7 linked regions of the Homo sapiens genome follow. The protein of the gene in region 5 purifies or fractionates together with the protein of the main gene of each other region. This does not show direct contact. Each region holds a gene or a part of one and is shown on either strand. Other genes may lie near its edges.

The links.
Region 1: the proteins of RPP30 (region 5) and KIF15 fractionate together in Homo sapiens (co-fractionation; one large-scale study listed by BioGRID). This does not show direct contact.
Region 2: the proteins of RPP30 (region 5) and EPB41L1 fractionate together in Homo sapiens (co-fractionation; one large-scale study listed by BioGRID). This does not show direct contact.
Region 3: the proteins of RPP30 (region 5) and VWA8 purify together in Homo sapiens (affinity purification with mass spectrometry; one large-scale study listed by BioGRID and IntAct). This does not show direct contact.
Region 4: the proteins of RPP30 (region 5) and WDR44 purify together in Homo sapiens (affinity purification with mass spectrometry; one large-scale study listed by BioGRID and IntAct). This does not show direct contact.
Region 6: the proteins of RPP30 (region 5) and ENOX2 purify together in Homo sapiens (affinity purification with mass spectrometry; one large-scale study listed by BioGRID and IntAct). This does not show direct contact.
Region 7: the proteins of RPP30 (region 5) and CTR9 purify together in Homo sapiens (co-immunoprecipitation; one large-scale study listed by IntAct). This does not show direct contact.

The regions. Positions count from the first base shown.
Region 1 is NC_000003.12:44,850,865-44,854,143, reverse strand, and holds the end of KIF15 (kinesin-like protein KIF15), read right to left. Parts: intron 2,358-3,279; coding exon 2,192-2,357; intron 1,937-2,191; coding exon 1,805-1,936; intron 1,472-1,804; coding exon 1,409-1,471; 3' UTR 888-1,408; downstream 1-887. UniProt on the Homo sapiens protein: Plus-end directed kinesin-like motor enzyme involved in mitotic spindle assembly.
Region 2 is NC_000020.11:36,206,213-36,210,509, reverse strand, and holds part of EPB41L1 (band 4.1-like protein 1), read right to left. Parts: coding exon of another isoform or gene 2,730-4,297; intron 2,210-2,729; coding exon of another isoform or gene 2,102-2,209; intron 1,023-2,101; coding exon 612-1,022; intron 1-611. UniProt on the Homo sapiens protein: May function to confer stability and plasticity to neuronal membrane via multiple interactions, including the spectrin-actin-based cytoskeleton, integral membrane channels and membrane-associated guanylate kinases.
Region 3 is NC_000013.11:41,880,673-41,884,969, forward strand, and holds part of VWA8 (von Willebrand factor A domain-containing protein 8 isoform a precursor), read right to left. Parts: intron 2,820-4,297; coding exon 2,715-2,819; intron 1-2,714. UniProt on the Homo sapiens protein: Exhibits ATPase activity in vitro.
Region 4 is NC_000023.11:118,390,720-118,395,016, reverse strand, and holds part of WDR44 (WD repeat-containing protein 44), read right to left. Parts: intron 2,386-4,297; coding exon 1,746-2,385; intron 963-1,745; coding exon 832-962; intron 1-831. UniProt on the Homo sapiens protein: Downstream effector for Rab11 which regulates Rab11 intracellular membrane trafficking functions such as endocytic recycling, intracellular ciliogenesis and protein export.
Region 5 is NC_000010.11:90,895,489-90,899,644, reverse strand, and holds part of RPP30 (ribonuclease P protein subunit p30), read right to left. Parts: intron 3,766-4,156; coding exon 3,728-3,765; intron 3,333-3,727; coding exon 3,253-3,332; intron 1-3,252. UniProt on the Homo sapiens protein: Component of ribonuclease P, a ribonucleoprotein complex that generates mature tRNA molecules by cleaving their 5'-ends. Also a component of the MRP ribonuclease complex, which cleaves pre-rRNA sequences.
Region 6 is NC_000023.11:130,665,312-130,669,608, forward strand, and holds part of ENOX2 (ecto-NOX disulfide-thiol exchanger 2), read right to left. Parts: intron 2,432-4,297; coding exon 2,219-2,431; intron 439-2,218; coding exon 332-438; intron 1-331. UniProt on the Homo sapiens protein: May be involved in cell growth. Probably acts as a terminal oxidase of plasma electron transport from cytosolic NAD(P)H via hydroquinones to acceptors at the cell surface.
Region 7 is NC_000011.10:10,768,059-10,772,355, reverse strand, and holds part of CTR9 (RNA polymerase-associated protein CTR9 homolog), read right to left. Parts: intron 4,283-4,297; coding exon 4,195-4,282; intron 4,014-4,194; coding exon 3,865-4,013; intron 2,147-3,864; coding exon 2,030-2,146; intron 1,870-2,029; coding exon 1,724-1,869; intron 812-1,723; coding exon 740-811; intron 1-739. UniProt on the Homo sapiens protein: Component of the PAF1 complex (PAF1C) which has multiple functions during transcription by RNA polymerase II and is implicated in regulation of development and maintenance of embryonic stem cell pluripotency.

The sequences.
Region 1 (3,279 bases), on a different chromosome or scaffold from region 5:
CAAAGTGCTGGGATTACAGGTGTGAGCCACCACACCCAGCCCTATAGTTCATTTTTTAGTAAACATAGAGTTGTGTAGCCATCATCACAAAGCAATTTTAAAACATTTCCACCACCTCAAAAAGTTCCCGTGTGCCCAGTCATTCCCACTCCCATCCTAGCTCCAAGCAGCCAATGATTTACTTTCTATCTCTATAATTTTGCCTTTTCTGGACCTGCCATAGAAATAAAAACATATAATATGTGGTCTTTTGGGTTTGGTTTTTCTTTTACTTAGCATTTTTTTGAGATTCATCATGTTGTAGCATGTTCCCTTTTTATTGCCAAGTAATATTCCATAATATGGAAAAATGTTCAATAGCATTAGTAATTAGGAAAATGCAAGTGATATAACTACACACCTAGGATGGCTGCAGTAAAAAACCTGACAATAACAAGTGTTGGTGAAAATGTGGAGAAATTGGAATACACTGTTGGTAGGAATGTAAAATGGTATACCTAAATGGTAAATTTGGAAAACAGGCAATGTCTTAAAAAGTAAAGACATGCTTTTCAGATAACCCAGTAATTCTACTCCTAGGCATGTGCTCAAGAGATATGAAATATATGTCCACACCATGACTTACACATGAACATTTATAGCTCCATTATTTATAATAGTCCTAAACTGGAAACAATTCAAGTATCCATCAGCTGTTGGATGGACAGTGTAGCATATCCATAAAATGGAATATTTGTCTCAATAAAAAAGAAAGAAGGCCCAATACACAGAAGTTCCTTGAGGGCAAGATTTGCTTTGTTCACTGATGATTAGTGCCTGGCATATTGCAGGTGTTCATTAAGTATGTGTTCAATGAACAACAGAATGAACAATGTAAGTCACTTTAATTATTATCTTAAAAAATGGCTTTATTTACAGTCATGGAAAATGCTCAAGAAAATACCTAAAGTAAGAATACAAAAATAATCTATATTAACAAGTTTGCTTCTTGTACCTGCTACTAAGTCAGTCATTAAACTCACTGCAGGTGTTGGAACCACCATATATTGTTAGAACTTCCATAAGAATCAAAGGAGATTATGGCATAATCTAAGAAGAAAATGATCTGGCTAATGTCCACTGTAAACCTTAGCTACAGGCTTTTATTTTTACAAAGACAAAAGGTTTTCCCTTAAGTTGATTCAAAGCCTTGAAGTAGGCCACTTAATAGCAGACTGCTGACTGTCACAGGGTGTATATGGATGCAGAATGTTCATCAGAAACTTGAGGTGGTTACCACCACCTTATAAACATTTAATAATTAAGGTCCATAAATTCAGCTCTCCTAAGTGGCCAGGAGTAGGTCTTACTTGTAAAAGAGAAGAAACATCTTCAAACAAGGTGATGCCTAGGTAGCTGACCGGAATCCTCAAGATTCACTTCTTTTCTTTTCTTTTAAAAATACATTTTCGGCACGCAACTTTTCTGTCTCCTAAGTAATTTTAAAAAAACAAAAAGAAAAAAAATAAGGCTCTAATTCTTACAGGAAGTGGTTTTTTTTTGCATTTATTAGGTGTATATTTCAAATTAAGACTGGAATTTTCAATGTGCAAACTAAACGTTAAACAAGAATCTGCTGTCTATGAAATGCCACTGATTGAATTAGGCTCAGAATAGCAACGACCAACTTTTTTTTTTTTTTTAATTCAGGAAGCTCCCTGAAGTAAGCAGTTAACTGATTCAATAATTAAGTTTTAATTTGGTTTCAATAAAATAATCATTTTTAAACCAGACAGAATTTATTCAGAATAATTTTTAGGTTTACCTCAGCAAGCCTGACATTTTCCTTCTTTAGTCGCACTACGTACTGAATCTTCTGATGCAAATTTTGGTGACCTACCAACTTTCCATTTTCCTCAGCAAGACACTCCACCTGCTTCCTTAACATTTCCATCTCCTGCAGGTAATCAATCCAAGGAGGGAAAAATGAGAAGTAGGTCTTAATTTTCTTTTAAAGTCACATTATTTCTTGCCTTCCAGGAGCACAGGAAGTCAGAGAGTCCAGAATCCCAGCTTTCAAGGCCTCACAACTCTTCATACAATAAAGCAACTCTGAACTAAGGACACCCAATCACAAAGTGAGTTTTACGCTAATTAGTTCTATTCATTTGAGTGTTCTAAGTATCATGAAAACACCAACACACTAGCACACCTGGGATGTTCTCTCTCTTTCTTCATACATTTCTTCCAGCTTTGATCTCAGTTGTTCTTTTTCCTGGAATGCTTTAGACTCCAAAGTTTGGGTTCGTTCGACTTCATCAGTCATTCTAAGGCATTCCATCTCTTTGTTGTAAAGGGCACTTTGGACTTCTTCTAGGCTGTAGGAATAGGTTATCACTTTATAGTATTTGAAAGAAACATAATCATAAAACAGTGCTCAAGTTAGACATGTGTACTGCAAGGCCAGAATTTTGATTTGAAAGTATTACTAATCTTTAGCCCTCCTCTGCTGATGGCAAAAGAAGACAGTAAGTGCTACATACCAGATATGCTTTTTTTGGTTTTGTTTTACCCAAGACTTTCATTTTGGAAAACTCCTCAAAACATTTTCTAAACAAAAAAAATTTAGAATAAAATTGTTTAGATTCAGCCCACTTGGGGCAAATGTAATTTAAGTATTATTATAATCTGCATGGTTTATTCAGTATCCCCTATCTTGATCATTTCTGATTTCAAAAACTGGTCCTCAGACAGTGGGACACCAGTCATTTCTTTCAATTCATTTCTTCAGTTGTTTAGAATTTATACACTTCATGTACATTTCACTGACTTTATAAAATGATCTGAATCCTGTAAGTTTCCCAAAACAAATGCCTACTTCACCCCCCACCCCCCTTTAGGGACAGGGTCTCACTCTGCTGCCCAGGCTAGAGTACGCTGGCACCATCATAGCTCACTGCAGCCTCCAACTCCTAGGCTCAAGCAATCTTCCTGCTCCAGCCTTTGGAGTATCTAGGACTACCAGCATGCACCACTGTGCTTGGCTAATGTTTTAAAAATTATCCGTAGAGATGGAGTCTTGCTATGTTGCCCAGGCTGGTCTCAAACTCATGGCCTCAAGCAATCCTCTTCTCCTTGGTCTCCCAAAATCCTGGGACTACAGGTGTGAACCACTGTGCCAGGCCTGCTTTTTATTTTATAATGCTCATGAAATGTAATGTTGACTGTTGAAATGATGTATTATTACACCATTCAAGGCCAGCTAATTTCTAGCTGTTGATTACTGAAATGATATAATAC
Region 2 (4,297 bases), on a different chromosome or scaffold from region 5:
AGAAGAGATGAGGGGGCAAAGGAATGATATGGGCAGGCGTGCCTTAGAGAAATCCCTTCACAGCTCTACAGAGGAGACCACAGAGAGGCCCAGAGACAGTCTGTCCCTCCTCAATGACCACATTTCCTCTCTTCCAGGAGCTTCCATTACCACCCTGAGACCCCAGGGCCAGATGGATTTAAACTGCTTCCCCTTCCCCGGGAAGCCCAGACCCCAGAGAGACAAGCCTGGGCCCGGATCAGGAAAAACCATTCAGCTTTCAGACCAGGCTGCAGGAGCCCCCAAGAGTCCACAGACGCATGCTCTCTGCAGGTGCCATGCAACACAGGTGGGGGGGCATGGGGTCAAGAAAGACCAGACTACCTGTCATCGCTCGACTTCAGCAAGCGATGGGGTCACAGGGTTAAAATACCAAGGAGCGCGTGTTAGGGGTAAACCGAGATGGCAAACATGCGAGCACAGAACCATGCTGTTCTGCGGAGGGGCAGTCATGCAACACGAGACAGAGCTTCAGGCTGCAGGCTGGGTGCTCGGTCTTCTCACGGGTGGCCCAGGGCCCTCTGAGCATGCGGTGCCCAGCGGGCCTGGCTCTTGAGGAAGCTCCACTGTACCTCAAACTGGGGCATATCCGGGGTGGAGCAGGCCCCTCGATCCGGGCTGTCCTCAATGCCCCCAGACTCATCATCCTGGCTGGGGGCCCCCTTGTTGAGATCCCGGGAGAACAGCAGGCCCTCAGTGTCCGAGTCGCTTTTGTCCCGGTCGAGCTCAGGCAGGCTGCGGGAGAAGTCTTCGAAGGCGCTGCCATGGTAGTCACCAATGACCGTGAAGTCCACCTCAGCCTCCAGGCTAGACGTAGAGCTGACCGTGATGCTGGAGCACTTGCGCTCAATGGCCAGGTGGTTGTCCTTCAGGAACACCGTGTCCCTCTCCTGGTCCTGGTCCTCATCGCCTGTGTCACTCTCTGGGGCCCGGGGACGTGGTGGTTTGACTTTCTCCTCGGAGCCCTCCCTCAGCCCTGCTCTCTATGGCCAGATAAAATCAAAAGAATGGGGATGTGGGGTGGGGAGAGAGAGAGAAAGAGAAATCAAGATGGTGAATGTCAGGAGAAATCTCGGGGCTGTGTCGACATCCTGAATGGAAGAGCAGGCCAGGAAATGAAAAACACCCCAGGAAAGGTTCCTTGAAATCATAACAAGCATAAAAAAAACAAAAACGACTCAAGAGTGGAGATGCCCCTTTCTGAGGGTCTCACACTGATGGCAAAAGCAAGTACAAAGCAAACGTCCTGCCAGTGACTCCTGGACAGGAGGCTCCATCCAAGGGTATTGGATCTGGGAGCTTATTGGAAGCAGCATTGCACGAAAGGCAGGGATGGAAGCCCGGACCCCAGGCCCATCCGTGCAGGTGGGCGTTGAGAAACAGAAACTAAGGAGGGAGATCCAGGGATTCAGGGAGACCCAGGAAGGGAAGGCAGAGAGGTTGGAGCCAAGAACTTTGAGGAACAAAAGAGGAAGCCAACATGTTTGTCAATTCCACTGAGTCTCCGGGGGAGGGGTCAGCATCGACTAGAGAGAAGAGCAATTCAGGGTCAGGCCTTTTGGGCACGAGCTTCTTGGGAGCTGAGTGCTACGCCAGCTCCACCCTGGGCTCCATGAGTGGACCACAGGCAAGTCAGGGAGTAGAGGCTCTGGTCCCATCAGTGTAATTGACAACAGCGGGCCAAGGCAGTGCCTCGGGGAACCAGCAACTCTTGTCCGACATACATACCTCTCAACTGGCCTGTCAGGGATTAAACACCACACACACATTTTTGGCTGGTTCATAACATTCTTTTTAAAGACCAACCTAATACCCATGAAAGATTTGTAAAGAACTTGGCTTCTGGTTCTAGGGATTCAGTGGGCTTAGACATTCACTTGCTAAGCGAGCCTCCATTTAGCCAGTTTCTGGAAGGTTGAGAGGTGTGAGGGAGACATTCCAGACAAGCCAGAGTTGAGCAGCACGAGAGGTGCTGCCACAGCAGGTGGGAACCTAAGGCGGCGATGCATCCTGGCCGGGTGAAGGTGACTGGGTCATCAGGGCACAGAGGGGCTGCAGAGACCTGAGGGCCCGAGGGGCTGGCAAATCTCAGGCGCCCCCCCTTCCCAGGGGTGTTGGCTGCTAAGTTGGTGGAGCGCTTCTCTTCCCTGACCGCATCTCCGGATTTGTTCTGGATTAGAGAAGACAGTTAGTCTTAAGGAGGCAGAAAGAAACTTGGCACTGGGACTGAGAGGGAACCAGAAGTGAAGGATGGAAACCTCTGGACTGTCAACTTTCCCAAGGCGGGAGAACCAGGGATGGGAAAGGATGAAGAAAGATCGCTGGACAAGCCAAGCAAGGTAGGCAGGAACCCAGCGGGTATGAGCGGCAAGGCAAAGCAGGTGTGTCATTTGCTGGTGGTGGCGCCACCTTCTCCATGGGGGTTGTGTGACCCTCTGGGCACCAGGTCACACCAAAAGCTGAGGGTCTTTGTGGCCAAGCTAACATGGGCCAAGCAGAGAAGCCCATCATTCAGCCTGAGCTACACCCAGGCCCGTTTAGGGAAAAAACTCACAGGGATGGATAAGCAGCCTCTGATTGCAGAAATGACGAGGGGCCACTGAAACATGCTTCTAAAAACTACAGAGCATGCGGCCAGCCCCCATGGGCGGGGAGCAGCGGTGGGGGCGGGGGCTCACGCGGCCAGTTACCCCAGTTCCAGTAGCTTCTGCCAGCGTGGTTTCACAGCCTGAATTGGGGGACACGGGCTCTAGTTCCGTGTGTGCTTCCTGGTAGGATGCAGAAGTGTCCTCCCTGAAGTGTCTGGTAGCCAGAGGTATCACTGTGGAATGTGTGGCTTTGGGGCTGGCAAAGTCCCCTGGGGGCTGGAGTTGGGCGAAGCCCAGGTCTGAGAGCGTACTCCGCTGCTGCTCTGCTTGTCCCACGGGTGCCTCTGAAGATACGTCATTTGGAAGGGACCTTGCTTCACCCTCACTCATTCGGCGAGTTTCAGCTCCGTGGGTCTCAAATATCCGAATTTTGTTGGCCACTGAGGTCTTGCTAATATCTTCTAGGGAGCCCTCTTGGTCCCCAGCCTGGAAAGAGGTCATCTCCCTTCGCTTCCCTGAAGGGAACCCAAACCCCAGAGGTATGCGCCCCTCAGCTTCTTCAGGGACTACTCTGGGCTTTCTGCTGGTGATGGGAGGAGGCCTGCGCTCACCTCCTGTGGCAGGGGACACCACAAACCCTACTTGGTCCTTGGGCTCTGGGCTGGCTTTCGAAAGATGGACATGTCTAAGAAAGGGCTCCCTGAGCTCCGAAGGCTCCCCTGACCCATGGGAGGTTGGGCTTGGAGAAGCTTCCTCCAGAGCTGCCAGGTCCTCAGAATGACCAGGGGAGGCTGGCAGGGGAATGATCACCTCCATGTGAAGAAATGCTGAAGCCTCGCGGTCCTTCAGCTCAGCCCCTCCTTTCTGGGTGGGAACCACTCCCCTCTCTTTGGGTGGGAAGTTGCCTCTGTCTGGTTTGACTGGCTTCCTGACATTCAGAGGGATGGCCCGAGGAAGGGCGCAGGCCTGGGGGTCGGGATGCACGCCCTGTCCTCTGTGAGGAGGGTGCTTCTTCAGTTCCTCTGTGGGACTTTCCTCAGCCTTTCCCAGCAAATCTCCACTCACGGGGGTCCCTTCCTCTCGGGCTGCGCTGGCTGTCAGGTGGGGAAACTCTCCTTCCACTCCCCACTGGGCATCTTCCCAGCCTTCAGCAAACGTCTGTCCTGCGGGAGATCCCTTCAGGTCACCAGGTCCTCCATGGTTCTTGGGGGTCCCTGCCCCTTCCTTTGGGGAAGTCATGTGGGCTTCGTCCTTGCTCCTGCTGGAAGCAGCAGCAGAAACCCTCAGGTCTAAGGAATTCAGCGTCGGCCTGGGCTCACCTCCGGGAGGGGCATCCAGGCGCCCTTTTCTCTCCTCCAGGGGTGGAGGGAGGACTTGGTCTTCTGAGTCTTTTTCTTCATAATTTAAATAGAAGCTCCTCTCTGCAAAGGAAGTATCAGTTTCATTGCTCAACTCAGCTCTGGCTTCTGCGTGGGCTGGATCCAATAGAAACGACTGGAGTCCTCCCTTGTCGGAGGCTGGAGAGAGGACGTCCACCTCTGCTGGCCTGGTCCCTGGAGCAGTGGGTCTCCCACAAGTGTGAGGCTCCTCCAGCCCCTTCCTCAGCTCTGTCTGGCCCTCCGGCTGACCATCTGACATGCAGCGGTTCCTGATGGTTGCCTCTCTGGTGT
Region 3 (4,297 bases), on a different chromosome or scaffold from region 5:
AATGACCCTCAACCTAGAAATCTACAATATTTCCTCATGGCCAAACATACATCATGAACTCTCAGCAAAAATTCCCCAGAAATGGGGAATTTGGGAGGCATACAATGTCAATTTGTCCCACCTGGTCAAGTTGAAGTTTACTGTAAAAATACCACTTTCTTGTTTTGTAGTCAACTGAGTCTTTTGGAGGGAGATATTCAGAGATTATGTCAATACCCTGTGTCTCATAGAGGCTCCACCTGCCAGCTTTAACATCCTTTGATGACTCCTGTCTAAATTAACTGCCACTCTGATGGTTGCCAAATGGTGTTTTTTCTATTTATGTAATTCCTTCTAGATTCACAAGTAGGCATTTTACACTTTAAAAGAGAACTCCCATCTCCATATTTTTTGTTCATTTCTATCAGTATGGACTCATGGATTCCTATTTTATGTAACAGGTTAAAACCAATTACCATCATCATTTATTTTTATGCTCAAATTGTCCCAGATTTCAGCCACTTCAACCTGGGAACTCCATCATTTTGACATATCGACATCATTTGTTGAATATTTCCTTACTCTCTGGCACAAAAAGATGGTCCAGGCTCATCTTCTGCATTCCCTGACCTAATCCTTTTAGAGAGCATGGTATTTAGAAACCAATGTCCAGGTACTTGGTATGATCACTGCTACTAGAACATCATAGTTTTTTTTTGCCGGGGGGGGGGGGGGGGGGGTAAGGTCACAGATCAACAGGATAAGAATTTTTCTTAGTACAGAACAAAATGAAAAGTCTCCCATGTCTACCTCTTTCTACACAGACACGGCAACCATCCGATTTCTCAATCTTTTCCCCACCTTTCCCCCCTTCTGTTCCACAAAACCGCCATTGTCATCATGGCCCGTTCTCAATGAGCTGTTGGGTACACCTCCCAGACGGGGTGGTGGCCAGGCAGAGGGGCTCCTCACTTCCCAGTAGGGGCGGCTGGGCAGAGGGCTCCTCACTTCCCAGTAGGGGCGGCCGGGCAGAGGCGCCCCTCACCTCCCGGACGGGGCGGCTGGCCGGGCTGGGGGCTGACCCCCCCACCTCCCTCCTGGACGGGGCGACTGGCTGGGCAGAGGAGCTCCTCACTTCCCAGTAGGGGCGGCCGGGCAGAGGTGCCCCTCACCTCCCGGACGGGGCGGCTGGCCGGGCGGGGGGCTGACCCCCCCACCTCCCTCCCGGACGGGGCGGCTGGCCTGGCGGGGGCTGACCCCCACCTCCCTCCCGGACGGGGTGGCTGCTGGGCGGAGACGCTCCTCACTTCCCAGACAGGGTGACTGCCGGGACGGAGGGGCTCCTCACTTCTCAGATGGGGCGGCTTCCGGGCGGAGGGGCTCCTCACTTCTCAGACGGGCGGTTGCCAGGCGGAGGGTCTCCTCACTTCTCAGACGGGGCGGCCGGGCAGAGACGCTCCTCACCTCCCAGACGGGGTCGCGGCCGGGTGGAGGTGCTCCTCACATCCCAGACGGGGCGGCAGGGCAGAGGCTCTCCCCACATCTCAGACGATGGGCGGCCGGGCAGAGACGCTCCTCACTTCCTAGATGGGATGGCGACCGGGAAGAGGCGCTCGTCACTTCCTAGATGGGATGGCGGCCGGGCAGAGACGCTCCTCACTTTCCAGACTGGGCAGCCAGGCAGAGGGGCTCCTCACGTCCCAGACGACGGGCGGCCAGGCAGAGACGCTCCTCACTTCCCAGACGGGGTGGCGGCCAGGCAGAGGCTGCAATCTCGGCACTTTGGGAGGCCAAGGCAGGCAGCTGGGAGGTGGAGGTTGTAGCGAGCCGAGATCACACCACTGCACTCCAGCCTGGGCACCATTGAGCACTGAGTGAACCAGACTCCGTCTGCAATCCCAGCACCCCGGGAGGCCAAGGCTGGCGGATCACTCGCGGTTAGGAGCTGGAGACCAGCCCGGCCAACACAGCGAAACCCCGTCTCCACCAAAAAAATACGAAAACCAGTCAGGCGTGGCGTCGCGCGCCTGCAATCGCAGGCACTCGGCAGGCTGAGGCAGGAGAATCAGGCAGGGAGGTTGCAGTGAGCCGAGATGGCAGCAGTACAGTCCAGCTTCGGCTGGGCATCAGAGGGAGACCGTGGAAAGAGAGGGAGAGGGAGACCGTGGGGAGAGGGAGAGGGAGAGGGAGAGCAATCCTATTTTTTTAACTAAATATGAGAACATCATAGTTTTTAGGCTGCCTTAGGAGACAGCTAGAAAATATGTGTATGTATACATATACACATACTATCTCTATCTATTTGTTCATATATATTGTTTAAAAAAAGTCATGATTCATAATAACACCAATTCCAATCCAATACCTTAGAGTTTTTTCTTGCCTTCCCCCTTTCCATGGTTATAAATCCCTCATCCAACAGTGAGAAGCATAACTCTTATTATCCTTAATATATTCATTCATTTGCTCAATCTATTTACTTATTTGCTCAACATAACCAATCTCCCAATCACACCAGCCCCTGTGTGTTTGCTGCCCTATTTATCACAGCTGTCTTCTTGTTGGAATGCTGATACCTCCATGCCTGGTAAAGAATGGAGGGGAAGGGAAAGGAAAGAAATAAGGATGGGGAGAGAAAAATAGGAAAGGTGGGGAAAGGAGTGAGGGGAAGATGGGAAAAGGCAAGGGAAGGGAAAATGGGAAAAGAAAGGAAAGAAAGGGAAGCAGACACTCACCTTTAAAACACCTTCCACAGCCATCTTCCCTTCATGACCTAGTAAAATACTATATGGATAAAGCCACTGGATTGCATGTTTGATTGGCATCATAGGAAAGGAATCCTATGTAGGAGCAAAAATACATAGGAATGAGCAAAATTCAAAATAATCACAGAAAACATCTGAAATGTACATATGACATTAAAATTGACTTATAAAAGTAACCAATAGGTGTCTGGTATTTTCTGTAAGTCTACAAAAGCAAATATTCATTATTTTCTCTTCTCATTCCTTGCCCTTTCTCTGGGTAAGCTTACCCATTCCCATCTTTCATTTATCTTCTATGTATTGATGGCTCCCACACTTCTATGTCTGGTCTTGACTTCTTTCTTGAGCTCTAAACCTGAACCCTCAATTGTTCATTACATGTGACTATATGAATATCCCATAGACCCCCATTTGAAACAGAATACATGTCTCTACCTTATTCATCCCAAAGTACCTGATCCCTTTTTATTCCTAAGTTAATCTCATCCACATTCACTTAGCTTCACAGTTATAACTACAAAATTAGAAAGTATTCATTATCCTCAAATCCTTCCTCACATTATCTGCACTGTCAATTCTGTTCACCCCACTTTAAAAGTCTGTTGACAAGAAAGATTAGTGAAATTTCAATATGAACTATCTATTAGATGATACTATGGATTACTGTTAACATGATATGAAGTGTGATAATGTTGTTCTGGTTATGTAGAAGAATGTCCTAATTCTTAGAAGTTGCATACTGATATGGTTTGGCTGTGTCCCCACCCAAATCTCATCTTGAATTGTAGCTCCCACAATCCCCACGTGTCATGGGAGGGACCCAGTGGGAGACAACTGAATCATGGAGGCAGTTAACCTCCATGCTGTTCTCATGATAGTGAGTTCTCATGAGATCTGATGGCTTTATAAAGGGCTTTTCCCCTCCTTCACTCTGCACTTTTCTCTCCTGCCACCATGTGAAGGACGTGTTTGCTTCCTCTTCCACCACGATTGTAAGTTTCCTGAGGCCTCCATAGCCTTGCAGAACTGTGAGTCAATTAAACCTCTTTTCTTTATAAATTACCCAGTCTCAGGTATTTCTTCATAGCAGCGGGAGAACGAACTGATACACACACTGAAGTATTTAAGAGTACTGACTGCAATTTACTTCCAAATGGTTCAGGAAAAAAAAAAAGAAAAAAGCACATGCAAACAAATGTGGCAATATATTAATAATGGGTGATTGTAGGTGAGGGGATTATGAATGTTTTACTGTTTTTCAACTTTTTTTTACATTTGAGAATTTTCAAAGTAAAATGTTCTAAGCAAAAACAAAAGATTTCATAAGAATTTTCAAAATAAAATGTTCTAAGCAAAAACAAAAAGATTTGATAAAAGTATAAGATTTGATAAACAGGAGGAGAAATTCTGTTCTGGATGTATAGAACAATGTCAACAATACCTAGGCTCCCTGACTCACATGAAACATACATATATACATACATACATACATACATACATACATACATACATACATACAAGTTTAAAAATAAGTCTCTTGCCTAAGATAGTAT
Region 4 (4,297 bases), on a different chromosome or scaffold from region 5:
AATGTTCTATTTGAACCTGGCCAAAAGGCATTTCTCTACTAAGACTGCTATTAATCTGGACTGTATGTGGCTACCTCAAAGGTAGGGGTCAGAAAACTTCTCTCTATAAAGAGCCATACAGTAAATATTTAAGGCATTTTTGTTCATATAGAGTCTCTGTCACATATTCTTCTTCTTATTTTAAACAACCTTTAAAAATGTAAAGAACATTCTTAGCTTGGGGAACCTCCTAAAGCAGGCCACTACTGACCCCTGCTCTAAGGCTATAACAAGACTATAGTGTCCTATATTCTAGTGTGGTAGCCTGGCCCACCACAGCTACCATGTAAGTAGCTCTGAGTCCCAGAATCTGGCTGTGGTAAAATTAGTGTTATCAAGTCTTTTGTGTAGCCCGCTTCCTAGCATATAAAGTTTTTCTATGATTAGGAAAAGGAAATTATAAAAAAAAAAAGTCTTCAATTCTGACCAATACAGGACAAACATAGACTATAGTTGGTGTTTATTAGTACCAACAATATTACAAATAGTAGCATCTGTCGTTTTTTGAATACCTATTACCTGCTAGATACTTGGCATATTTTAGCTCATTTCAAACCCTCAAGGAAGGACTTTTCCTCCATTTTATTGATGGGGCATCTGAGATCCAGATGCTAAACAGCTTGCTAGGCTCACCCAGTTAGCATGTAGCAGAGCTGATCAAGAGAAGTAAGGGGGTCAGGTTTGGAGGACAAAGAAAAATCTGGCCTGGAGAATACAGAATAATCATCAACAAACCAGCCAGTTGCAGGGAGCTGATAAAGTCTATATGAAACAGAACACTAATTCACCAACCTGGGCGGTAACTATTTTATCTCCACTGGTAGCACTTGCCAAATCAAGAGAAGGCTGAGAATCCTTAACCGTACTTTCTGAAGCCATGCTTGCGGTTAGGAGAGAATCAGACGTAATATTCTCTTTGGGAACTGCAATGATAATAATAACAACAATAATAACAACCCTTTTTGTTTGATTCTTGTAACAACCCTGTGAGGAAAGTGGCTTGATTACTCTCATTTCCTATACAGGGAAACCATGGTTCAAACAAGTTATTTAATTTCCTCAAGACTATACAGCTCATACAAAAAAAAGATGCAGGACTTGAATTCAGACTTTAGGTCTCCAAATCCCAAGTTTTTTTCACCATGCCACTCTCTCTCAGATGGCAACAGAATTGAAAGTTTGAAGTCTGCTGAAGTGTTCAATTACAGTAAAGTAATTTTCACCAATGTAAACATTTTTACATTTTGTCTATTACTAAAGAAATAATTTTAATAACTTGGTTGCCAGTGAGTTTTTTAATAAAGTGAAATAAAGGCAGAAAGGTAAACAGTTTCAACTCCAAAATTTCACCACAAAGAGTTATTTCTCTCTTTTTTTTTTTTTTTGAGACAAGATTTCACTCTGATCACCCAGGCTGGAGTGCAATGGCGCGACCTTGGCTCACTGCAGTCTCTGCCTCCCAGGCCCAAGCAACTCTCCTGCCTCAGCCTCCCAAGTAGCTGGGACTACAGGCGCGTGCCACCATGGCCAGCTAACTTTTGTATTTTTTTTTGTTGTTGTTGCTCAGATGGGGTTTTGCCATGTTGCCCAGGCTGGTCTTGAACTGAGCTCAAGCGATCCGCCCGCCTTGGCCTCCCAAAGTGCTGGGATTACAGGCGTGAGCCACTGTGCCCAACCAACAGAGTGATTTCTCAATTAATACTTGCCATCTATATCAGGAGTTTTCAGAGTCTCAAATTCCAATTCGCTTTTCCTTTTTCTTGGTGGTGGAGCAGGTCGAGAAGGAGGTGGGGGTCTAGGAGGTGGGAAATTAGTTGGAGGAGGTGGGCGTGCTGGAACAGGCTTCTTTGTACTAGCCACTATATCAGGCTCTGGAGTAAGGTGTCTTGGGGGTTTGGCAGGGGCCACTTCTTCCACAGCGGCAAAATCTTTAGTAGATAAGGAGTCTGAGGACACAGGCTCTAAAACATCACCACCTCCTTTGACTTCCACTGCTTCCTTGTTCAATACTTCTGTTTCAGTTTCAAGCACATTAAGCTGCTCAGTTGAACTTGTTTGAGTTAACTTCGTGGTTTCATCTACTGGTTTCTCACAGGTTTCATCAGAAGGAAAGCATTTTTTTAATTCTAATTCAGTCTCTTCAAATGTATTCTGACTCTCTGCCTTTTGGGATTCTTCCGGTAGTACTTGATCTATGGCTAACAGTCCGGGTATATTGCTCAGATCTGTTCTAGCCACAATAGGACTGGCAGTAGCTTGATCAGAGAGTTCTTTTCCTTTGGAATCCAAAGAGTCATCTTCAAGCTGTAGTACTTTCTGACTCTCCTCAATAATACTTTCAATAATCTGATGAAAGGGTTAAAAGTAGTTTTTAAAAATGAAGCTATTTATAAGAACACAGTAACAGCTAATCATTTACATAGTACTTAGTATGTGCCAGGCAATGTTCTTAACACTTTACATATTTTAATCTTTACAACAACCTTATGAGATTCTACTCCTACTGTCACCATTTTACAAATTAGGGAACTAATCAAATGATTTGTCCAAGGTCACAAAGCTAGTAAGTGATGAAGCAGGTATAAACCCAGGGAGTTTGATTCCAGCATCTATACTCTTAACCCTCATAATAGCAAATTTGTGTTAATACTTAGGTACAAAAGATCAAATAATCCTGTAAAATCAAGTTCAATCCTAAACTTACATTAAGACTCAATATCCTGATTCATTTACATATTTATGCCAAACTTGTTGTAATACCAGCCTAATGGTTTGAGCCTACTTAACCAAACCACGATAATCCAAATCCCCAGGAGAAGAATTCAAGTTGTTTAGCTCTGAACTCAAGCTTATGACCCAAAAACCAGCAGATGCAGGGAGATTAACATTCTTAAACAGACTACACCTAAACTCCACTATGTGGACTGATGGCAGGACCATGAAAAGAGTTCAAATACCCAGTCCACCTTGTCTTTTCCCTTCCTTTCTTTTTCTTTTTTGAAATGGAGTCTCACTCTGTCACCCAGGCTGGAGTGCAGTGGCACGATCTTGGCTCACTGCAACCTCTGCCTCCCAGGTTCAAGCAATTCTCCTGCCTCAGCCTCCCTAAAAGCTGAGATTACAGGTGCTCCACGCCGGGATAATTTTTGTATTTTTAGTAGAGACGAGGTTTCACCATGTTGGCCAGGCTGGCCTTTAACTCCCGACCTCATGTGATCCACCTGCCTCAGCCTCCCAAAGTGCTGGGATTACAGGCATGAGCCACTGCGCCTGGCCCCCTTTCTTATATGTAGCTTAAAATATAAACAGGCTTTCTATTATCTTCTGCCAACATTTAGAATATATTTTCTCCCCAGTCTTGTCATTACTAATATTAAATCTCCCAGATCACTTATCCTGCCACCATGTCCAACCATGAACAACTTCTGCTTTCTCAATTCCCTGGCTTCAGAAAGTTAACAGAATGCATCATAGAACCATCCTAATCTGGTTTACTACAATTTCATGCTAACTTGAACTGGGTATTACTGCTGCTCAGTAATATTCATCCCTGATTTCTTAGCATGTTCTATATGTTAGTTTTTCTCAAACTTCAAATTGTTAACCTTAGAAATTACCTTGCTTTCACCAAAACTAACCAGAGTCCAACCAATTTGTCAATTAGGTGGTTACTGAGCACTGAGAACCTCAATGATAACAGTGATAACAGAAGTCATATTACAATGGATTTGAGATTGAATAAGAGGTGAAGATACAGAGACATTAGCACGGTCTGAGTTTTCAAAAAGCTTAGCTATAAATGCAAAAAGACTTCGATAAAGTGACCCAGCACTTTTATAACCTGAAGGGAAGGAACTACTGGAAAAGAAGATAACAGAGCAATGTTCTGGAAAAGAAAGGAAAGAAGGCCTACTGTGTATTAGACCTAGTATACACATTCTCATTTAATTGTCATACAGGCCTTTGGGTTAGGTAGCTGGATTACCTCCCTCCTAGAAAAGCAGGACTCTGAGGTAAAGGCTTTAAGAATTTTGCCAGTCCCACAATTAGTAAGCTACAAAGCCAAAACTGAAATCCAGGTCTTACTTAAAAATCCAGTGATCTTTGTATTATACCACACTACTTTGGACAGAAAACAAGAATACTAAATCTTCAGTGATGGATGACATGAAAAAAAGGTAAGAAATAACAATAAATATGTAGGTAAAGGAAGTGAAAGATGATACAAAGGAATGGATTCAGGCTTTTTAGCCTCTAA
Region 5 (4,156 bases):
AAAATAGTTTAGGGGACAATATGGCTGATGTGAAGTAGGAATACAAAAAAATTAGGAGAAAATAGAGTTTGGAAGGGTAACTTATGAAAGGCCATAGTGTCATGAAAACAGACCCAAACTCTGTCCTTAGAAATGGAAAGGGATTATGGAGAAAGAGAGAGATACCCATTAGCTACAAAGGTGGCAGAATCAAAAGAACTTGAACAGAAATTTAGCTATGAATTATTCCTTATTTCAAGTAATAAACGTAAAGTCAACCATAAAGTGTTAAGCATTATTTTCCCATTTATCAAGATTAACTTAGTAAATCTACTCTGCCAATTATTTTAAAACACTTTTATTTGTAAAAGGGATAAAACTGCTCTCAAGGTCATTAAAATGCCAACATAATAAGAACCTCAAAATAAAAACTGTCAATGATTTCCATTTCACCAAATGAAAAACGTCACACTTATAGCTATTAATTTATGTCACTGATTCTGTACCCATAGTCTAAAAATCAACTGAAATATAAACATTATGAAAATCAGCACTTTTTAACAAAATGCATTAATTTCTTTAGTGTCTTTTAAAAATAAATGCATTTCTTGGTAACAGCAAGACGTTACATTTGTGTATGCTTTAGTTTATAAAATGTTTTCACATATAGTATTTCCTTTAATCATCTTGCCAAGGAAAATCTAAAGGATTATCTACGAGTGAATAATTTTGTTCACAAGGGGCTAAGGCAGGTGTCCCCAACAGGTTCATTTTGGTCCAGGGGCTGATTGAGGGCATGAACTTTATCAATCACAGGCCAAAGACCCTGACCTTGGGCCTCTTTCCTCTGTCCTTTCCCCACAACCTCCTCAGAATTGCTATTCATTGGTTTCTAGATTTCTGGACCCCCAAAGAACCTAATTCTGATTTCCTGTGGCAAGCCTTCCAAGTTGAAAGCTAACTACCATGTGTCCCAACTCTTCTGCTTGCCAGGTATCCATGTCTGCACCACCCTCGTGATTCCTCTCATCATGAGGCTTCCAGACCCTTTAAGGACTGAGTAGACATTTTCCAATAGTGTTTCAGTGCACTGCTGTCCTTCTTAAATGTGGCACTCAGAATGATACAGATGCCGGCTGAGATTTCATCAATGAGAGTATAATAACGAGGCTTTGAATTTCCTTGTCTCAGAATCCTTTATTTCTTCTAATATTACCTAGGCTGAATTAGCAATCTTAAGAACACATCATACTACCGTCTCATACTGATCCCAATGGCAACGAAAACCAGGGTAACCATATTTTATCATCTAGTTTAGGACTCTCTTCAGGGAATAGAAGTGCTAATAAGGTCACAGAAACAGCAGGCATAAACTAGAACTGTCCTGGGTACACTGGGGTGAATGGTAATGCCACCCAAAGTTCACAAGTCTTCTTTAAGTTTAGCTTCTATAAAAGCCTGATTTTAGACACAGAAAGACAAACATCACATGTTCTCACTTGTTTGTGGGATCTAAAAATCAAAGCAACTGAACTCCTGGAGACAGAAAGTAGAAGGATGGTTACCAGAGGCTGGGAAGGGTAGTGGGGGGCTGAGAGGGAGGTGAAGATGGTTAATGGGTACAAAAAAAATAGAATGAACAAGGTCTAGTATATGATAGCACAAGAGGGTGACCATAGTCAATACAATTTAATTGTATATTTAAAAATAACTAAAAAAGCATAATTGGATTGTTTATAACACAAGACATATGCTTGAGGGGATGGACACCCCATTTTCCATGATGTAATTATTATGCATTGCATGCCTATATCAAAATATCTCAGTACCCCATAAATATATACACATACTATGTACCCACAAAAAGAAATTCTAAAAAAAAATACTTTACATATTATGTGTTATATGCTGAATAGCTGAGTTCTTAAAGTCAAATGCAGGACTTCCTATTTTCCTATATATAAAATTATGTATGTATTTATATTTTAGTTTCTGTTTCTTGTTTAGTCCATTTTGGAACCCCAACTGTTACTCAAAATCCTGATGAATGTTTATTTAAAATAGATCAAAATAATGACAGAACTATCAAAGTGTGAACCAACTGTTCCCTAATTTCAAGAAAATCATTATTCAAAATCTCCATTAATTTGACCACTCCCAAAGCTTATGTGATGAGTTCTAGGCTACATAATACAAAAATCTCAAACTAAAAATGTTGAAACTAAAAGCAAAATCATCTAATTTACGGCAAGCCAATACATAAGCAGTTCTCTCAAGTGGAAATCAGATCAATAAAGCCCAACACACAAGCCCTCAATAACCTAGCTATTCATATGACAAATAACTCAGTCTATATGTAGCAATCTACTTTGAAGTTTAAAATTCACTTGGGTGATATCAATGAAATTGCTTCTTAACCACTACAACTAGTCCTAAGAATTATAAAGATAACGAAGACAAAACAGTGATCAAAAGCTTAAATTGTTTTAATAAAATTTCACTTTCATTTTCCAAAGTTTCAGCATACTTTCAATTTTTAACATCTGATGAGCAGGAAACTCAGTCAGTGAAAAGGTACATATACAAAATGTGAGTAAAAAATGTACAGTCTGGCCGGGCATGGTGGCTCATGTCTGTAATCCTAGCACTTTGGGAGGCTGAGGTAGGAGGATTGCTTGAGCCCAGGAGTTCAAGACCAGCCTGGGCAACATAGTGAGACTCTGTCTCTATTTAGAAAAAGAAAAAAAAATAAAAAAGGTACAGTCTGGACACAACTTGACCATGTAAGCAAACATGAGAAAAGAAACATTCTGAGTTATAATAAATGTAAAAGTTACAGTCTATGTTTTGTTAGTTGGATTTTTAAAAATGTATTTGCTGGTTTTGTTTTCCTAATAAATAGTTTAACACATATTTTTAACATATCCGTTCTCTAAAACAGAGATTTTCAACAGGGAAAGCATGGCCTTCTGGTGAGGGAGAAGAAGGAAGGGAGATTAGAAGCCTATCAAAATGTCGGCAGGAGCACACATGTATAGCTGGAAGAACTATTCAATACTTATTTCTGTAATGAAAACTATATTCATTCTACAAACTTTAGAAAGTAAAGCCTGAAGTGAGGGTGAGAAAACACTGATGACTGTGTTTAGAACAGGTTGAGAAAAGATGATCCCAAAGGAACTCTGTAGGGTAGGGCAATAAAAATAGGTATGGCTGTAAAAATGACTTGCTTTTAACATGACCATTCAGTTTGTACTGGAAGAACTTGCTTACCTCCATGGAGAAGCGCTGCTCGGCAGTTGGTGGACACCGCAGCCTTGGCGTCACTTTCAGAGAGCCCAAACAGCAAGCCTCTTGGGGGAGCATTAAAGATTTCAACCCAGAGTCACCCAAGGACACGAGACTAACACAAACATAACAGAAAGTGCCAGCTAACCTGGTCATCTTGAGAGGCTAATTAATTCAACAGCAGTTCTTAGTCCAACTGGAACATGCATCTGAGAAAAGACTCATTTAACTCTAAGCTTTTATCATATGAAGTCCCTCATTCCCTCTTTTCTATCTCATGATTAATTAAAAAACAGAAGCATAAAGCTCTCTATAATGTTATATAATTTATTTTTGAAGTTATTAATTGGTAAACTTACAGTAAAAGGTTGAGAAAAATACATGTTCAACTATAATACGACTTCAAATTCAAAATTTCCTGAAAGACAATGTCAACAACTTTTTACTCAGAAAAGGATACAGATTTGCCACGTCATATGGCCCTCTTATTTCTAAAGGCTGAAATAAAATGAACAAAGAGTAGATATGAGAAAATTATTTATAACATTTCAATGACTTATAGCAAATTAATAGAAAATTTAAGTATCCAAAAATAAAAAAATTACATAAATTTAAGTCCTTATAATTTTGATGGGTTTCATAGCTTTTGAAAATATAAGAGAAGCTTGAAAGGCATTTTGTAACAGTATAAAAGAAAAACTGATTATATAAACAAAAGTTGAAGCCTAAAGAAAGTGGGGATAAATTTTACTATTTAGCAATTACAATGAGCAAATGCAGTTAAAATAGAAAAAAATGCAACAAATATTCATTTACTATTTTAATTTATCCCCTAGAAACTGAAAAGTTTTATAACCTGAAAGATGAAAACAAAGTACTTCATGCTAGA
Region 6 (4,297 bases), on a different chromosome or scaffold from region 5:
ACACTAGAAGCGCAGGTCAGTAATTATTGTTGTACCCAAGACTAGCTCGCTAAGAGAAGTAAACTTATAATTATCCCAGCTACATTTTCACTACTAAGGTTTCCATCCAGCAGAATGCATTCACCACAGCACAAGCACATTTATTACCCTTTTGACAGCAGGTGGTCTGGACACAGTGACAGGCTATAGAACATATCTTAGTGTTTCATTAGGGCCTTATTGTGACCATGGGAGCTTGGCACTATTTAATTCTGGCTAAACTCCAGATCAATAACTTGTTAACGAAAGAAACTGTCCCCCCAAGGGGCTACCAGAATAAAAAGTTACCAACCTCAGCTTGTTTGCACCACACGCTGATGTTCTTCCGCTGGGCTTTTGTGAAGTGGTCCCATGCCTTCTGCTTGGAGGCGGAATGGTACACAGCCACTATCTGCTCAACTGCAGCATCAAATCAGCAGTTGGATCAGGCCAGGGTATCATCCAGGGATGGAAAAAGAGAGGAGAAAAGAAATGAAATAAAAGAGAAGCATCAGGCTTGTTGTATCTTGTTGTTATGACACTATACTAAGCTGTGGTTGTGCTTGGAAAAGGCTACATGTGTTGGGGTACTTTGATTTTAAAGGAGACGCAAAGGAAAAGACATCAACATACAGAAAGACAAAAGGGAACACCAGAGGTTTGGGGTAAAATGGTAACAACTAGAGTTTTAATACAGGCATTGTGAATTCATGGAGGCAGGAGAGGAAGAGTCATAGCAAATGCACTTTTATTTAGTACTTGTCTTTAGTTTAGTACTAGTGACTCCACACAGCATGGAAGAAAATGGCAAACTGTACCAGAAACTCTCTACCCCTGGCTCCTTTCATAGCCCTCTGACACACACTTGGATGCCTTGCTTCAACAGAATTCATGCTTTTACTATTCTGAGGTATGTTTAACAAGAAGCATCAAATCAAAACCTAAGATGGATTGAATCTTTTTTAAGTCTACCAAGATAGACTCGTTGACTGGAAAAATATAAGTTTTAGGGAAGGATGCTGTGTAAGTGCGGTCCTAGAGAGTATTTTTCAAGGTCTCTTAAAATGTCAAACAGGGAAATGTGTGCAGATGTTCTGGGGCTTTATCCTAATCACAGTTCAAGAGAGGGGAAGCTTAGACATGACTCCTTTGGGAAAAGAAAAGCAGGACAAGAGCCCCTGTCTGGTTGGGTGTTCACAGTAAGAAAATCCAGAGGTATTATTTTTTTTTTCTTTACATCCCTGTTTGCACCCTGTCTTCTAATGACTTAAGGATTTATAGTCCCATGATGCGTGCTGCTTTCTCTTTTTAAAAATTTATCCTAAAGTCCTGAAGACATGTGCTTTTGCCTCCTGGATTTTATGCCCATATATACTTTCAAAATACAAGTGGCAAATGGAACAACTCCCCCTTAATCACAATTATGTATGAGTCAAGTACAGGGAAGTCAAGTTTGGAAAGAGTGGACCATAATTGTTTAAAAGCAAAATCATAAAATTATACCCTTATTCTTAAGGTGAATATACTTTCTTACTGAAAAAATAAGAGTGTATAATTTTATAATGTGGTAAACAAAAAATTACTTGATAATTTATCTGATCTGGCTCATTTCAGAGACCTTAGATAGGTTTGGAGCGGAATTTCTTTTTAAAAATGGCCATTTTGGTAGCTTCTCACCTTGTCCCAGTGTCTATGACATCCAGCAAAGGTAGCAGAAGAAAGTAAACTAAATAAAAAATGTAGAAGTAGCAAATTTGATTTTTATCCAATCACCTTGGGAAATATAATTACATTGATCATTGAAATGGAGTTTCTTGAAGGCATATTACATGATGATAATTATACAAATCTGAAGAAAAGCAGCTTTAAAATGCTGATGCTACATCGTAACTTTAGCAATAAAATACCCAGCCCTCTATTGAGGCCCAGGGCTGTAGAAGTATAGGATGTGGCCTAAGGATCAGTGTTTCTAAGGAGTTGAAGTAGATATACCAGAGAAAATGAAGCTAGCAGGTGCGCACATGTCTCCTGTGAAATTGGAGCTTGGGCATTTGACAATATAAGGAGAGCACAAGGCAGTGAAAAAGGGAGCCTTGAGCCTTAACACAGGATGGCTCTGGAGGCCTGAGCTCCCATAGAGAGCAAGTGACTAAGTGAAGTGACTTATTCTCATTCCAGCAGAACTCTAAGTTCCACTCACATTGAATGAGAATTCCAGAAAGGGCCTGCTTGAACTTCTCCTTTGCTTCTTCCATATCTTTCTCATGGGCAGCTTTCTCGTTCACCAGGCGGCGGACATGGCTGTTGGCCGACTGGATCATGGAGTAGAAGTTATTGGCGCTACGACGGTTGACCTCTCCTCGCTCTATCCAGGTAAGCAAGGTCTGTACAGCTTCTGAGAATTTGGAATCATCTGAAAAAAATATATTTTTATAACCAACAAAGGTAACCAAATTTTGATCTATTTTCCCAACATGCTGGCAAAGAGGGCATCATGATTTTTGGCAGTGATGGGTAAATGAATTGCTGAGGATGAGGAGCCACACATACACACATGTGCACACACAGGCAGTAGGCAGGCAGACAAACAGGAAGAATGGAAGGATCAATGTAGTCAGACTGGTTGTGGTCTGTGATGAATTTTCAGAAAGAGAAATGTTTCCTTGAAAAAAGTTTTCTGTACTGATATATAGGTTTCATGTATTGCAAATTTCTTACCCTCTCTGATTGTGTGTGTGTGTGTGTGTGAGAGAGAGAGAGAGAGAGAGAGAAGGGGGAAAGGGGGCAGAGGGGAGACAGAGAGACAGAAAAAACCATGAATTAGTGAGGGAACTTCAGAATTCTACAGTCCTGTGTTTTAATGAGGAAAAGCAAACTTGAATCCTGAGTTTAACTTGAATTTAACAGTAACTTTACCTTGGATCCATGGAATTACAGTGTTGGGAGGAGCCTCAGGGAAGAGTTAATTAAGTAGGTCATTCTTTAGATACAAACATGCACATCTTCGACCTTTTATAGTATCACTCCTGTGTTCAATCCACAGCCCCAGGCCTTCCACTCAGTCCCACTCACAATCTATTTTGATGCAATTTATTTTATTTCTATATTTCTCCACATCCTTTTTTCTCTTGCATGAAGAACCTCCATGTAGATTTCTGCAGCTAGTTAGGAGTTATTCTGTGATTAGTTAAGATAGTAGCACAGCTCTTCCAAAGCTTCTGGTTCAGCTCCCCAAGATAGCCACTTATGCCTTCTGTTCTTAAAGGCTCCAGAGAGGGAGAGTACATTTGGATCTATTGAAGCCCAATTCAAGGGCTTCACATCCTTCTCTGGCTAGAAACCCTTATGTTAAATGGAAATTTCCTTCACTGCAGTTTGAACTTCTTGCCTCTTGCCCCTTTTTCAGTGCAGACATATAACAAGCAGTCAGCCTCCCCTTTATAGCAGCTTTTCACTTTATTACTTAGATATAGACTTTATGTTGATGCTCAGTTTTTGCTTCTCTTGAAGGTCACACACCCATTAAATTCATTTTTTTAAACTTAAACTGATTTGTTTGGTGTTGTGTGACTAGGCAAGTCTTGGACCTGGCGTCTTACCAATGCTTTCAGCCTTTCCAGTTTTTCAAAATGTACCATTATTTCTGTGCCTCTATTCTGGACTCTAGGTTTTCTGCTTTTCCCTTAAAGAAAGTCAAAACCAATTTCTTACATGTGTGAATCCCTTAGGCTATGTGGTACAAACATGTCTGGTGAAGGAGACCTATTTGGAAAGTAGGGTTAGCAGTATCTTGATGAGTTGAGAACACAAGAAGCAGGGAAAATTCATACCATTAGAGCTGGATTGGTGTTACCAATAAGATCAATGGGACACCAGCATTCATCCAATAAAATCATCTATACTCAGAAAATGAGAAAGACTGGATTTGAGCTACTAAGACAGGAGACCAGGCAGAGCAATTAATGTTAAATTAACAAAATGGCTGAGAGTCAAACAAGGGGAACAAGAATCAAAACTAATGGGAAAGCAGTCTGATTAAGCAATGTCTACACGTTTCCACAGTCACTGTTTTAAATAAACTGGCCTTTTAAAGTGATTTAAAAGTCTTTATGTTTTAGTTGGTGGTGGCTAAGTCTTTGAGTCATCTAAGAAGAATGTACAGCATGACTACTTTCTGGACCTCCATTTTCTCATCTTTAAAACAAGAATTTTACCAGAGTTTTTCAGGATCACATCAAATCCTATCATCCTGATTCACTCATTTGACTTGGAATTATAA
Region 7 (4,297 bases), on a different chromosome or scaffold from region 5:
AGAGACAGAGTTTTGCTCTTGTTGCCTAGGTTAGAGTGTAATGGTGCCATCTCGGCTCACCGCAACCTCCGCCTCCGGGTTTAAGTGATTATCCTGCCTCAGCCTCCCGAGTAGCTGGGATTACAGGTGTGCACCACCATACCTGGCTAATTTTGTATTTTTAGTAGAGACGGAGTTTCTCCATGTTGGTCAGGCTGCTCTTGAACTCCTGACCTCAGCTGATCCGCCCACCTAGGCCTCCAAAAGTGCCAGGATTACAGGTGTGAGCCACTGCGCCCAGCCAAAAAAAATTTTTTTTTTTGCATTACACTTGCCATACCATACCAATGTATGGAGTCTTAATTAGCAAAATTAACTTAGTTTATCATAAGCCAATACTGCCAACTATGTTAAGTTTCCAAACTATAAATGTCCTCTCAAAGCACAGCTAAAAAGATTTCCAACATTATCTTTACATATAACTCAGAGTCATGAATTTTATCTTGACTAGGCTGACATAGCTGACATAAGTAAAATAGAAAAGTATTTTCCCCCAGAACTCAAGTACTTGTACTAAGGCAATTTTGTCCAATTCCCTGAAAGGAAAAAGTCCTGGCAAAGATTAGAGAGTCCCCAAGAGAAGTGTGAAAGACTGACCTGTGGAAGGTCAGGAACCTCTGTTCCCTACTGTGGCACTTTCCCAGCCCATGTAAATATCACTGCCTCACCCAAAGTCACCTTCCATAAATAGTAACATTACCTGGCTTCTGTAGCAGCAAGGGCCAAATCAAATCTCATTTTATCTCCCACTTTACTCAAATAACTGAAGTATCTAAATGAAACGAGAAAATACTTCACTTTTAAAAAAAGAGATTCTAATGAAATAAAGCTCTTAAAAAATTTAATCTGTGCTACAAAGTCTGAGAAAAGGTTTGCATATTGACTGATTTACACAAATTTATGCCACTCATTACATTTAATAGACACGTTCATCAAGATGGTCTAAGTTATATTTAATATTATCAGTAAATTCACAAATAACCACAAAGCAATTCAAGCAACAAGTATTTACTAAACATGAAATTTACTAAATATGTCAGGATGGAGGTTACGGGGCTCAGGCCATGAAAGCACTTATAATTTACCAGGCAAGGCAAGAATTGTTAAACAAGAATAAAAATATTAAGTTGGACAAAACCTGAAGAGATGACAGGTTTTAATTTCACCACACACTGACTCACCATATAAATACTATATGGCTAAATAAATTTTGAGCTGAACTGAATAAAACTATTAAGCATTATTTAAGAAGTAAAACCTTAATCCTAGTTCAATGAAAATCAACATCCCATTAAAAGACACATTGGTGTAAAATGGAAGACCAACGTAAGTGTCCAAAAAATTTCACATGTGTAAAATGCTGGGTCACATTACTGTCAGATTAATAAAAAATCTATGGCAAGTTTGCAAAGCTAGCCAGCCAGTTCTAGAGGTCAAGCTACAAGATCCAAATCTGGCAGGATCCTGACTATAGTTTGGCACCACCTGGTGGCAGCTGCTATCTGCTTTGGCTTAACTATTGCTGGAATGATTCTAATAGACCACCTTTAGAAGGAAGTGATTTTCAGCAGCTTGAGACAAATAGCTTTAAACAAAGCATTTCAGACAAAATCGGGAGAGTTCAAGATGGTATGGTCATAGACCAAATAAAGCATTTCATAGGTTGTTTCTACAAAATCTTTACCTATGTGCAAGCTCCAGTTCTTTCACAGCATTAAGTACTTCCTTCAGATTACTTTTTTCATCTTTCAGGACAGAGGTAGCTAATCTTTGCAGGACCAAGGCCACATTAAACATAAGAACTGTATCACTGGGTGCCACATGTCTAGCCTGTGAATAAAAAATAAATATTTCATATGTTCAAATGACATGAAAAGGATCTTAGACAGCAGAGTATTATTAAGTAGTAGGTATGTGAACACGCATCACGAAGAATTAAAAAATACAATGTAGCACAGAAATGGATGGGAATAACATCTCTCCTTTTTACCTTCAGCAAAGTCTGTTTGCATTCCTGTAACTTGCCACACTTGAAGAGGGCCCGGGCCAAATAGAGTACAACTTCAGTGTTTTGGTGCTTATAGAACTTTCGGAGGCAGTTTTCATACTACAGTAAAAGAAAAAAGTTAATTAAAACACAACAAAGAATAAATGACATTTTCATTTTGTAGCAAAATGGCATTGCAATTTTAAAGCTCTGTAAAAAGGTGTTTTACCCTTTGAATGGTTAATTTCAGAGAATAATTTGGGGAATGATTTTTGACATTCATCAGGATACATTTTCACAACATAAAAAATCTGACCATTAGAAAAACTAGATGCTTGAAATGGTTTCTTTCCATTTGAAATTTGGACCAACATTGAAAGAAAGGGTAAACAGACTGGAAAGCCTTTTTCATACTTTTAGCAATACTATCTAGAATCAGCTTATTGACCACTGATGAGAAGTCATACACCGTTGTCCTTTGCGTTTTACCATCTACACCTTTCTTAACAATGGGCAGAACCTACTGGCAATGAGCATGAGGAGTCTTACAGTTCTGGTTGTTAACTTCTTGGTAAAACCAATACAATACTAGTGTTAATTGTGACATGAACATAGCACTTTTTGACCATGGAATACCTCTTGTCATAGGTAAGACCTTTTTCATGAAAAATGGTTAAGACCATTTTTTCCTGAATATCCCTAGTAGTTAATTTGCATTTATAAAAGACAACATTATCATTCAGCAGATCAGGAAGGCCAGCCTCACAAAACACAACCTCTGAAGCTCCATATGCAATCTAGGTTCTGTGAGTTTCTGTGATTATTGACTTTCCAGTACTCTGAATATTGGTAATAACCCACCCATTTTAGAAAAAGGTAAACCACTTCTCAGGAGCCTGGACTGCTCTTTTTGTCTACTTTTTGTAAGCTTTTCCTTTCTGACCATAATATATCCCACAGAGCCGAAGATCCTTTTTACTTTTTAATTTTATGGATGCTGAGTATGACTTTTATTTCGAGCTCAAGCACTCAACAAATGTAAGCATAAAAAAATTCTACAGTCATTAAATCTTATCGCTGTTTTGTTTTCTTTTTTCTTTTTTTTCCCGAGACAGAGTCTGGCTTTGTCGCCCAGGCTAGAGTGCAGTGGCAGGATCTTGGCTTACTGCAACCTCTGCCTCCCAGGTTCAAGCAATTCTCCTGTTTCAGCTTCCTGAGTAAGCTGGGATTACAGGCACGTGCTACCATGCCCAGCTAATTTTTGTATTTTTAGTAGAGACAGGGTTTCACCATGTTGGCCAGGCTGGTCTCGAACTCCTGACCTCGTGATCCATCCGCCTCAGCCGCCTCAGCCTCCCAAAGTGCTGGGATTACAGGAGTAAGCCACCATGCCTGGCCTGTTTTCTTTTAAATAAGTCATTTAACCTTTCTAAAACTCACAGTTCAGTTTCAGAAACTGAATACACAAATAAATATTCAATCCTACTACTTACTGGGTATTACTAATATGCTAGGCATGCTAGTGCCAAGTAGTTTTCATACGGGATCCTCACAAAATTCTATGAAGTTAAGGTACAATTATCTCCATTTTATAGATAGGAAAACTGGCTCAGAAAGGATGTCCTTTGCCTGAGGCATGTAATTAGTGGTGGAACCAGGACTCACATCTCTGTCTGGATACCAAAGCCTGGCCTTAGCATTATATAATTATAAATCTCTAAATAGACACAGTATCACAAGAGATAGCATGCAGCTCCATGACAGGGCCAGAATGGCTAAGAAAACATCTGCTTAACAATGAACAAGATATAAAAATATCTTGAAAGAGAAGCTATTACCATCTGAACGGCGCTGATGTACTGCTTTTGCTCCACATAGATGTGTGCTAAGTTCAGCCACACATCACTAATATCTGCTGTTGCTTCTCTTACTTGGGCAAATACATCACGAGCTTCACGAAAATATCCTTTGTGGGCCAAAACAGCTCCTAAAGATATAAAAAGGTTCACACTTAACAATTTTCTAATTGGAGTCAGAAAAACAACTAAAAATTCTATTTTAAAACAACTACATTGATCACATTTTAAGAAAAATTCTGATTTACAAACATTCCTCTGAAAGTATTCATTTGAAACAAATTGTTATGGGTACTCAAGTCTTATAATCACCTATGCCATTGGCAGCATACAGATTCTTTGCATCATTTCTGAGTACTTGTTTGTAGATGGCCAGAGCACGATCTTGATGACGCTTTTCCTATAGAAACAAGTG